Regions from separate parts of the Homo sapiens genome. Here regions 1 and 3 are each linked to region 2. The links come from fine-mapping of genetic effects on gene expression. A gene starts in region 2. Each other region holds a variant in brackets. All regions are shown on one strand. Distances are between the middles of the regions.

Region 1 (4,252 bases), 83 kb after region 2:
TTTTTCTTTAAAGTAAAGAGCAAGGCAATGATGCCCATTTTTGCCACTTCTGTTCAACATAGTACTAAAATTCCTAGCAAGAAAAATTAGGCAAGGAAAATAAATAAAAGGTATTCAAATTGGAAAAAAGTAAAAGTAAAATTATCTCTCTTTGTAGATGGCATAATCATATATGTAAAAATCCTAAAGACTACATATACTCACACATGTGCACACACATACACTTTGAATAAATAAATTCTGTAAGTAGCAGAATACAAAAATCAGTGGTGTTGCTATACACTAACAACAAACTTCCTGAGAAGAAAATTAAGAAAATAATCTCATCTAAAATAGCATCGAAAAGAATAAAATACTTATGAATAAACTTAATTAATGAGGTAAAAGACCTGTACACTGAAAACTATGAAACACAGAGGAAAGAAATTAAACACAAATAAATAAAAAGACATCCATGTTCATGGATTGGAAGGCTTAATATTGTTAAAATTTCTGCACTACCCAAAACAATTTACAGATTCAAAGCAAATTCTATCAAAATGCTAATAGAATTGTTTACAGAAGCTGATAAAAATTCTAAAATTCACATGAAACCACAAAGGGCCCCAACAGCCAAAACAATCTTGAGAAAACACAAGGCTAGAGACATCTGCTGATTTCAAAATGTATTAAGAAACAACAGTAATTAAAACAGTATAATGCTGGCATAAAGACAGGCATAAGACCTACAGAACAAAAGAGCCCAGATACAAATCCACACATATATGGTCAACTGATCATCAACAAGGTTGCCAACAATACAGAATGAGAAAAGGAGTCTTTTCTACAAATGGTGCCGGGAAAACTAGATATCCTACATAATAGACTGAAATTGATTTTTATCTTACACAATATACAAAATTCAACTTAAAATGAATTGAAGAATTAACTGTAAAGAAGACCCAAAATTGTAAATCCCATAAAATAAAACATAGAGGAAGAGTTTCGTAACATTGAAGTTGGCAATAATGTATTGGATAAGACACCAAAAGCAAAGAAACAAAAGTAAAAATAGGTAAGTAGAAATAAATCAAATAAAAACTTTTTGCACAGCAAAGGAAACAATCAAAAAAATGAGGAGACAACCTATAGGATGGGAGAAATATTTGCAAATAATCTATCTGATAAGGGATTAACATCCAAAATATATAAGAAACTTTTACAACTCAGTAGTTAAACAATCAAACAAACAAAAACAATAACCCAATTTAAAAAGTAGGCAAAGTACTTGAACAGACATTTCTCCAAAAAAGACATACATATGGCCAATGGGTAGATGAAAAGATTCTCAACATCACTAATCATTGGGGAAATGCAAATCAAAGCCAAAATGAGATATCACCTCATCATACCTGTTAGGATGACCATTATTAACACATAAATAAATAATAAGTATTTGCGAGGATGTGGAGAAATTGGAATTCTTGTACACCGTTGGTGGGAATGTAAAATGGCACAGCAGCTATGAAAAACTGGAGGTTTCAGCAAAAATTAAATATAGAACTTCCATATGATCCATCAACCCTACCTTTCTATATTTAAGAGAATTAATACCAGGATCCCATGTTCATTGAAGCATTATTCAGAATAGCTAAGATGTGGAAACAACCTAAATATCCATAAATGGATGTGTGTTAAATACATACAATGGAATATTATTCAGTCTTTTTTTTTTAAAAAAAGGAAATCCTACCATCTGCAACAAAATGGATGAACCTGGAAGACATTTGCTAAGTGAAATAAGCCTGTCACTAAAGGACAAATACAGCATGATTTCATTTGTATGAGGTATGTAAATAGTCAAATTCACAGAATCCAAGAGTAGAATAATGGTTGCCAGTCCCTAGGAGAGAGACATAGAGAGTTGCTAATTAGCAGTCATAAAGTTTCAGTCAAGCAAAATGAATAAGCTCTAAAGATATAATGTATAACATTGCACCTATAGTCCATAATGTAGTGTACATTTAAAAATTTGTTAAGAGGACTGTTAAGTGTTAACTCATGTTAAGTGTTCTTACCGTAATAAAAAAATTATGAAGTTGTACACTATTTGTACATTTTTCTGTACCTTTCACATACCTCAATATAATGTATTTTGAATAAAATATCAATTTGTCTTTTCCTCTTTCAGGCATGTCCTATTATTTATGATCTATTACAAATTTTCATTACTATTTTCCATGGCAAGTATCTATTTAGCCACAATTTTTGTTTTTGTTATAATGTGGGTGGCTGGCTGGAGGTTTCCATGTTTGCTTATTCCCCTGCCCCAGCTTTTAAATATGTAATTGACACAGGTTGTATATATTTAAGATGTACAATGTAATGACTTGATAAACATATACATTGTATAATGACTACTATAATCAAATTAATTTACATATCCATCACCACCCATGTCATACCTTATGTATTAGTCTGTTCTCACACTCCTATAAAGAACTGCCTGAGACTGGGCAATTTATAAAGGAGGGAGGTTTAATTGAC[T/C]CACAGTTCCACATGGCTGGGAAGGCCTCGGGAAACTTACAATGATGGCAGAAGGGGAAGCAAATATGTCCTTCTTCACATGAGGGCAGGAAGGAGAAGTGCTGAGGAAAGAGGGAAAAGCCCCTTAAAAAACCGTCAGATCTTGTGAGAACTCACTCAGTGTCATGAGAACAGCCCCCTCCATGATTCAATTACCTCCCACAGGGTCCCTCCCACGACACATGGGAATGATGGAAACTACAATTCAAGATGAGATTTGGGTGGGGACACAGCCAAACCACATCACCTTAGAAACCCAGAACTTGTTAGTCTTTTTTTTTTCCTCCATTGGACTTTTATTTGAATGTAATATTTGGGACAGTTATTCAAAAGGACAAATATTTTCCAACTTAATCTAAGGTCATAATAAAACAAGCAACAAAACAGTGTTTGGGATTTCAATTTCTCACCCTTATAATCAGGACTCAATGCCTCCTGTCATCAATATTTATTGAGCATTTACAATGTGTGAGGCACAATAGAACATAGAGACAACATTGTCCCTGCTCTTGAGGAGATTACATTCTAAAAAAACAAAACAAAACAAAAAAATGCCTCTTTTAAAATGGTTGGTTTGGTGTTTTCTGCAGAGTATTGAGAAAATATTCTGTAGAGCGAACTTTGGATATAACTTTACCCCATCATTATTTAGAGAATAGAGGAAGAGAAAGAGGAAGGATTTTAAAGGCAGACAATGACAGAATATTCAGGATAGATAAGGTTTAAAGAGAGATAAACACAAACTAAGGAGAGGTTTGTTGCAGTAAATAGGATGAGGGAAATAGTTTATGGGATGCAGGCAAAGGAAGCAGAGTGTTTTAAACACTGAGTGGAGCCAGACAGATCATGCGGCCTTTTTCCAAGTAAACGGCCACCAAGTAGGAATGGTTGGTGACAAGAGAGAAGGCTAAAAAAGGAAGGTAATCTTGTGCTCCTGAAAAATAGAAAGAATAAAGGATCAAAATCAAAGGCAGCCTATAATAGTATCTATAAATTATTCTTAAAAAATCAAAAGTGATTTGGAAGCCCAAAACTTACAGTTAATGCTACCCAATGTCATGATGGACCAAGAACATTGTGGCTTCCTAAGTTAGAAAATGCTGTATATTAAAATTTAAAAAGGAACATATTACTTTTTTCCAATCAATCCCCTTCCACTAGAAAAAACAGAAACTCATTTTTTTCAGGGTGAGGAGGAGCAGAGGGGAACATGGGGCATGGCTGCAAACAGTAGTTATGTTAGTAGTATTTTTGCTATGATAAATTTTGTGTTTAAACTTGGTAAAATTTCATTAACTGCCAAGGGAGAATGAGGAATAAATTTCAAAAAATGGACAATTTCCTTTAGAGAAATTTCAGAATCAAAAGACTAATTTACATGAAAAGCTATAGAGAAAGCAGCTGGAAAGTCTATTTATACAGCGTTTATTCCACTTACATGAACATAATACATGTGTTATTAACAATTATGTTGGATTGTCCATAAAAATTTCATAAGATATGAAACAAAACTGTGCATCATGTCCAGTTACTTCTCTGTTAACTACTTTTACAGTACATGCATGTGAGGCAAGTATCAAAAAAAGGCATAAAAGAAAAAACACTTTAACAATTAAATACTTTTTTTTTAATTTTACTGATTTGCTTGATGTACATGAAGTAATGACTATCAAGCAATTCGCTTTTA
Region 2 (4,252 bases):
CATGAATTTCTTTAAAAAATTGTATATATCGATTTTTATCAAAAGCTTTGTCTGCATACCTCTGTTGAGATTAACAAAGTCTTTTTTTCTTATTTGATGTGTTTCTGCAGTAAGTGATTTTCGAAGATTTTCTATTGTCAAATTATATATGAATAACTGGAATGAGTTCAATTTGGCCATGACCAAATGCTTTAAAAATACATCTTCCTATTCTATTTGCCACTTTTATTTTTCAGTTTCTTACATCTATATATATGAGGGAGAGTGATTTATAATTTCTCATTATCACACTGCTTATATTAGTTTTCTATTGTGCCTGTAACAAATTACCACAAGCTTTGTGACTTAAAACAATACAATTTTATCTTAGAGTTCTGTGGGTCAGGATACAACACTGGTCTCACTGGGCTAAAAATCAAGTTATCTACAGAACTACTTTCCTCTCTGGAGCTTCTAGGGAAAAAAATCCATGACCTTGCCTTTTCTAGCTCCTTGAGGCTGTCTCATTCATTGACTCATGGGCTTTTTCAAGGCTGGCAGTGGCAGATCATGTCCTTCTCATGTTGCACCTCTGACTATTCTTCTATCCTCAATTCTCTCTTAGACTTACCTGGGAAAGGTTCTCCACTTATAAGGACTCTTATTATTACATTAGAATTGCCATAATTCTCCAGGATAAACTCTGTGTTAAGATCAACTGCTTAGCAAACTTGATTCTATCTGTAACTTTTAAAATCATTTGCCAGATATCATAGCATACTCTCAGATTCCAGGGAGTAGGATGTGGATAACTTTGGGTACTATTATTCTTGGTAACATACTGCCTTTTTTGATGTTGTTATTGCAGAAAATAGAAGAAAAATAACAACTGTGTCCTGGCCGACACTGGCTGGGAGCTCATTGTCAGTAGACATGTGGTGAGGCAATGAGTCATAACCAACGTGGGTTTCTTTTTGTCCCATGAAAGATTTGGTGTGACATGAGCTGATGAAAAAGAACTTAATTCAAGTAATAAATTTATTTCTATTTTCACAAATTTGGAAGTTTTAAAATGGTACCCTGTTTCCTGGTTCCTTGAGAAGTTGTGGGGTTGAAAGGTGGGAAATCAAATGCATAATCAGCATCAGCATTACATTAAAGAGTACACGTGCAGGTTTGTTACATGGGTACATTACATGATGCTGAGGCTTGAGGTCCCAAAAATCCCATCACCCAGGCAGTAAGCATAGTACCCAACAGGGGCTCTTCAACCTGTTCCCCTCTCCCTCCCTTCCCCATCGAGTGAGTGGTCCTCAATGTCTATTGTTCCCATCTTTACATTCATATGTATTCAATATTTAGCTCCCACTTGCTAGTGAAAACAATGCAGTATTTGGTTTTCTGTTCTTCCGTTCATTTGCTTAGGATAATGGCCTCCAGTTCCATCCATGTTGCTGCCAAGGACAAGCTTTCATTGTTTTTTATGATCGCATAGTATTCCATGTTTTATATGTACCACAATTCCTTTATCCAATCCACCATGGACAGGCCCCTAGGTTGATTCCATGTCTTTGCTATCATGAGTAGCACTGCAATGAACATATGTGTGCATGTGTCTTTTTGATAGAATGAATTATTTTCCTTTGGGAAAACCCAGTAACAGGATTGCTGAGTCAAATGGTAGTTGTGTTTTTAGGTCTTCTAGGAATCACCACACTGCTTTCCACAGTGGCTGAACCAGTTTCCATTCCCACCAACAGTGTGTAAGTGTTCTCTTTTCTCCACAGCCTTGTCGGCATCTGTTGTTCTGTGACTTTTTAGTGATAGCCTTTATGACTGGTGTAAGATGGTATCTTATTGTGGTTTTGATTTGCATTTCTCTGATGATTCATGATGTTGAACATTTTTTCATATTTGTTGGTTGCTTGTATGTCTTCTTTTGAAAAGTGTCTGTGCATGTCCTTTTCCCATTTTTAATTGGATTTTTTTTTTTTTTTTTTTTTTGGTTTTTGCTTAAGATCCTTGTAGAAGCTGGATATTAGACCTTTGGCAGATGTATAGTTTGTGAGTACTTTTTCTCATTCTTAGGCTCTCTGTTTACTGGTAATTTCTTTTTTTGTTTTTTTTTTTTTTTTTTTTGAGACAGACCCAGGCTGGAGTGCAGTGGCACGATGTCCGCTCACTGCGAGCTCTGCCTCCTGGGTTTGCACCATTCTCCTGCCTCAGCCTCCTGAGTAGCTGGGACCACAGGTGCCCGCCACCATGCCCGGCTAACTTGTTTTTGTATTTTTAGTAGAGACGGGTTTTTTTTTTCTGGAAATACACATAAAAATCTAGAAATATAACACATTATAGAAATACCACAAGACCACATATCTGAGGGGAAATTAGAACCCTCTGTGGGGTTACTGTGCTGAGTTACACCCTAACAAATCTATCCCCAAAGACACCTTATAAGAGTGAACAGGACTTGCTAACCTAAATAGGTGTAGAGCTAGCACTACTCCAGGGAAGTGGAAATAGCAGCAAGTCAGCCAGGAAAAACAATAGAGGTGTAAATGAAGGGAATAATTAGGACACTAGAGCATAACCATCATCAACACTTGCCTTGTATCCTCATTTCGGAAGAACTGCTGAATGCTGGATATGAAAGCTAATGTCTTTGAGAGTCAGTGGACAAGTCTGTAACAGGGACATGCATCTATGCAAAAGCGACAGTGAGACTAACTCACGGAAGGGTATTGTGGAAAGTGGTGTCTTTACCATTGTTCTTTAATGGTCTGGTCCATGTGCCATGGATAACTAGTTTTCCTTGTGTTGCATCTAGCTGGGACTGGACAGAGAAACAACATCATATTGTATCCATGGAGATAGTTGAAAGTGCTGTAAAATGACATCCTGCAGTTGTTTTGTTTTGTTTTTGGTAAAAGCCTATCTAGTGATATCTGGGAGATATATACATATATATATACACACACACACACACATATAAAGATACACATATATATGTATATATACACATGCATGCTCACACACACACACACACACACACACACATATATATATCCAGGTATAAAGTGACATCTGTAATTTACCAATGAGTGGCCTCCAGTCACCACACTTAATTGGGAACATGTTTTCCATGGCAAAAACACAATTCTGTTGCAAAGAAAGAGAAAATTATGCTGTAATTTAACCAATTACACACACAATAGTGTAATGAACATTATGTTAATATCTTTGACTCTGAAATGGGATATCCAAGAGTTTTCTGGTTGATCGACAGAACCAGATGAAAACCAGTTTCTCCCCTGGAATGAGAAAATATATGAGGAGGCTGATATAAAGGCCCAAAAGATATTTTTGTCCAGAAACAAAATGAGAATTTTGCCTTACAAAATTAAACTTGGAAGTAAATGTTTCTATTATCATGTGTCTTGAACATCCAAATAAGTGCTTACAATGGAGAAAAAAATCAGTAAGTTAAAAGACACATATATATGTATATAGATATGTGCATATATATGTAAACATACATATGTGTATAGATATTCACCTATGTAAATTCTTGTGGAGGAATCATAGAATTAACATGATTTGTAGAGGGAATTTAGAGTCCAAGTTGAATTGTTTAAATGTTAATGGATGTCAGGATGTTATTAGGCTTATTGTTTTGTTTCAAATATTACAAAATATTTTATAAGAAAAATCCTGAAAAGATTTTAAGAAGTCCTTGGCAAAAAAAAAAGAAAAAGAAAAAGAAAAAAATACCAAGATGAGAGAGTGGATTGGGAAAGTGTTAGTAGCAAACTGATTTTTGTTTGTTTGTTTACATGATGTCAATCTTTTGGTTCTATGAAACATTTTTCCTACTGCCTTAAATATGATACACAATAAATTAACATTTGCCAACAATATGGTATTTTTCTTGAATTTTTGGAAACTTCTGAAGCATTCACTAAGGAGTTACCATTTTACAAGGATGAGAAAATAGAGCAGTCCAGTTACTGTGGCATAAGAAAAGACTTTGTCATACCTGGGGTTACAAGTCTAATGAAATCACATGAACCGGGAGGAGAGTTTTTCAAAAAAACAGAAGTAATAGTCGGGAAAGTATATTAAATAATTACAACTGTTATGTGATAAGATACACAATAAGGATTTTATAAAATACAATATTATTAAATAAAATCATGTTTTTAAGAAGATCCCTAATTCAGAAGCACTCATAATTTATAGTTAGTTTTTATTACATGAAGCCAGAGAAACATGA
Region 3 (4,252 bases), 30 kb after region 2:
GCAAGGGATATTTGGCCCCAAGACAGGACACACTCCAGCAATAACTATATTCTCAAAATCGTACTGTGCCACAGCAGCTTGGGTCTCAGGGAGTTGAAGGACACAATGTGAGTTTTCTGTCTGTAGCAATACAGCTGCATGATATTCAGGAAACTTCCTATATTAGGTTCAGGGCCTGTGAGGGCTGCAGGGCTCTCCTGAAGCTATGATTGCAAGCATCTGCTGTGGTAATAGGAACTACTGGGGATCTCCAGCTTACTTTTTTTCACAATGGAGTATTCCTACTGGCTTCAGACCAATCCTGGCAAGATGCTTTACTTCCCACTCTATGCTGCCATCCCAAGTGTGTATTCTTCAGAGGCTTTTTTATCCCTTCCTTGCTGAATTCCAGTGTTGGCCCTTAGTCACTCTACCTATAAAACAATTATTTATATGTTGTTTTGTTCCTTCCTTGCAGAAGAAACACATATTGGACACCTCTAGTCAACCATCTTGATAATGCCTCCTCTTATAATCCTTTTTATTTCTGTAAGATAGGTAGATATGTCTCATTTTCTTTTCTGATTTTATTATTTTTTTGCATTGTCTATCTCTATCAGTCTAGTTGAAATGTCAATATTGTTGATCTATTGAAGAACCAAGTTTTGGTTTTGTTGATTTTCTCTAATATTTTATTTTCTATTACATACATCTATAGTCTAATTTTTATTATTTCCTTCCTTTTATTAGTTTTGTGATTAATTTGTTCTTTTTCTAGTTTCCAGGATGTCAAGTTAGGTCATTTGAGAAATTTTTTTCTTTTTTTAATATAGGTATTTATGGCTATAAGTTTTCTTTCAGAGAACTGCTCTCACTGAATCAGATACTTTTTTAAAATATGAAAACATTCTATATTTAATTTTCACATTTCAGGTTTTAAAGAATAAATTCATAAGTATTAGTCTAATGCTGGCCTTATGCCCTTTTTATCATTTTATTATTGTTAAGTGTGCAATTTAGTGGCATTAATTACATTCACAATTTTGCATAACCATCACTATATTCAAAACCTTTTTTTCCACCTCAAGCAGAAACCATATCTATTAAATAATATTAATAATAATAATATGTGGGGATTATTACAATTCAAAGTGAGACTTGGGTGGGGACAGAGCCAAACCATATCATTCCATCCCTGACCCCTCCCAAATCTCATGTCCTCACATTTCAAAACCAGTCATGCCTTCCTCACAGTCCCCTAAATTCTTAACTCATTCCATCATTAAGCCAAAAGTCCAAGTCCAAGTCTCATCTGAGATGCGGCAAGTTCCTTCTGCTCTGAGCCTGTAAAATCAAAAGCAAGTTAGTTACTTCTTAGATACAACGGAGGTACAGGCATTGGATAAATACACCCATTCTACATGGGAGAAACTGTCCAAAACAAAAGGGCTGCAGGCCTCATGCAAGTCTGAAATCCAACAGCATAGACATTAAACCTTAAAGTTCCAAAATGATCTCCTTTGACTCTATGTCTCACATCTAGGTCATGCTGATGCAAGAAGTGGGCTCCCATGGCCTTGAGAAGCTCTGCCTCTGTGGCTTTGCAGTGTATGGCCACCCTCCTGGCTGCTTTCATGGGCTGGCGTTGAGTGTCTGCAGCTTTTCCAGGCATACAGTGCAAGCTGTCAGTGCATCTACCATTCTGGAGTCTGGAGGATGGTGGCCGTCTTCTCACAGCTCCATTAGGCAGTGCTCCAGTGGGGACTCTGTGTGGGGGCTCATACCCCACATTTCCCTTCCACATTGCCCTAGCAGAGGTTCTCCATGATGGCTCCAGCCCTGCAACACCCCTCTGCCTGGACATCCAGGCATTTCTATACAATCTCAATTCTTGACTTCTGTGCACTTGCAGACCCAACACCATGTGTAAGCCACCAAGGCTTGGTGCTTGTACTCTCTGAAGCAACGACCTGAGCTGCACATTGGCCCATTTTAGCTATGGCTGGGATGCAAGGGACCAAGTCTGGAGAATGCACAAAACAGCAAGGCCCTGGGCCTGGCACAG[A/G]GTACCATTTTTTCCTCCTAGGCTCCTGGGCCTGTAATGGGAGGGGCTGCTGTGAAGACCTCTGACATGCCCTGGAGTCATTTTCCCCATTGTCTTGGCAATTAACATTTGGCTCCTCCTTACTTATGCAAATTTCTGCAGCCAGCTTGAATTTCTCCCCAGAAAATTGTTGTTGTTTTTTTATTATTTTCTACTGCATTGTCAGGCTGCAAATTTTCCAAACCTTTATGCTCTGCTTCCCTTTTCAACATAAGTTCCAACTCCAAACCATATCTTTGTGAATGAATAAAACTGAATGCTTTCATTGGTACCCAAGACACCTCTTGAATGCTTTGCTGCTTAGAAATTTATTCTGCCATATGCCTAAATCATCTCTCTTAAGTTCAAAGTGCCACAAATCTCTAGGGAAGAGGCAAAATTCTGCCAGTCTTTTTGCTAAAGCATAACAAGTCACCTTTTCTCCAGTTCCCAACAAGTTCCTCATCTCCATCTGAGACCACCTCAACCTGGACTTCATTGTCCATATCACTATCAGCATTTTGGTCAAAATCATTCAACAAGTCTCTAGAAAGTTCCAAACTTTCCCACATTTTTCTATCTTCTTCTGAGCCCTCCAAACTGTTCCAGCCTCTGCCTGTTACTCAGTTCCAAAGTCAATTCCACATTCTGGGTTATCTTTACAGCAGCACCCCACTACCCGGTGCCAATTTACTGTATTAGTCTTTTCTCAGCTACTAATAAAGACATACTCAAGACTGGGTAATCTATAAGGGAAAGAGGTTTAAAGCACTCACAGTTCCACATGTCTGGGGAGGCCTCACAATCTGGGCAGAAGATGAAGGAAGAACAAAGGGACATCTTATATGATGGCAAGCAAGAGAGAGCTTGTGTAGGGGAATTCCCATTTATAGAACCATCAGATCTCATGAGACTTATTCACTACCATGAGAACAGTATGGGGGAAAACTGCCCCCATGATTCAGTTATCTCCACCTGTCCCCGCCCTTAACACATGGGGATTACTATAATTCAAGGTGAGATTTGGGTGGGGACACAGCCAAACCATATCAAGCACTATTTGAAATGTTTACCTGAAGAAGTCTTAATTATGTGTTTTCTTGAGAAGCCCTCTTCTAAATCTTTCTTTTTGCTCCCACTGTATCTTGCTTATTCTTCTGGGCCTAACCATGGCCTATTTGTCTTTTTCTTATCTCTGTTGAACTAACAGACAACTCTGATGCCTGGATGGAAGGATCATGTATATACAGGAGTGAACTAATATTGATAAATGATTTAGAAAACCTCAAACTTTCAATTGTTGCCTGAAGATACTGTTATAAATCTGAGAGGTGTTATTAGATACAGACTTTTACTTATTTTTTAATATCCTTTTCTGACAAGACTTGAGTGCAGGAGTAGAAGTGAAAATACTGAGTGATTATGTGTGAGAGAAAACTAGTCTTTGTTAACCTGAAATAAGCAAAAGGATCGCAATCCAGTTTTTAAAATTTGTTCAAGCAAAAAGTTGAGGATGGTCATTCAGAAGACAACAGACTTCAGATAAATGGGGTCAGTGTTCTGAAGTGAAAAGTTAACATCTCGCTTATATAGGCAGAAAACAAACAAGTTTAGTATAATTTTTCTATACAAGGCTGGTTTATGAGTTACAAAAATTTAATTATTACGGTTTGCTTTCTTTTTCATAGGGCTTGTTTTCTTTAATTTACAGCTGGTTTTTATATCCTTTCCAATTTAAAACAGCATATTTAATATTCCATCTTAAAACAGTGTGATAGCCATATCTTTGTGTAAGAAATGTAAGAAAAAAACTAAACTATAATGAAGATCAACAGTGAAGGGGGAAAGAGGTTTTCCTGGTGCCCTTTAGTCATTTTCAACATTTTACGAAGCAGTGAAGGTAAGGAACGAGGCTAATCTATAATCAGAGTAACAAAGTTTATAGCTGCCTAGGTTACAGCTGTCTGTCACATGACTCAGACTCCATAATCACATTCCTTTAAGGCTCAAAACAATTTAGAGTTTCAACAGCTTGGATTTTGAATTAATACTTATTTTAACATCTTCATTACCAATCAGTCATCAGCCCTCTTCCTCCTCAAAAGTTATATCTGCAGTAGTACCTTGTTTTCTAAAGCACTGCAATTCAAAGTAAAGTTGTTTTGTCTCCCGAGGCCCACAAAGAACACC

The links. PIP is the estimated chance that this variant, and not a neighbour inherited with it, causes the effect. A credible set is the group of variants that fine-mapping cannot tell apart.
Region 1: its variant is the best candidate, but not a certain one, in a credible set for the expression of LINC02705 in whole blood (TOPMed, PIP 0.63).
Region 3: its variant is the best candidate, but not a certain one, in a credible set for the expression of LINC02705 in whole blood (INTERVAL, PIP 0.66).

Annotation. Positions count from the first base shown.
Region 1 is chr11:60,079,168-60,083,419 of GRCh38, reverse strand. It overlaps the pseudogene YWHAZP9. Among named protein-coding and RNA genes, the nearest start is that of MS4A2, 7.4 kb to the left of the region's middle. The variant T/C (reference allele first, on the strand shown) is at 2,527.
Region 2 is chr11:60,162,408-60,166,659 of GRCh38, reverse strand. It overlaps LINC02705 (long intergenic non-protein coding RNA 2705), which reads left to right and starts at 2,260. Exons shown (of 4, transcript XR_950142.1): 1 at 2,260-4,252.
Region 3 is chr11:60,131,916-60,136,167 of GRCh38, reverse strand. No RefSeq gene overlaps it. Among named protein-coding and RNA genes, the nearest start is that of LINC02705, 30 kb to the left of the region's middle. The variant A/G (reference allele first, on the strand shown) is at 2,045.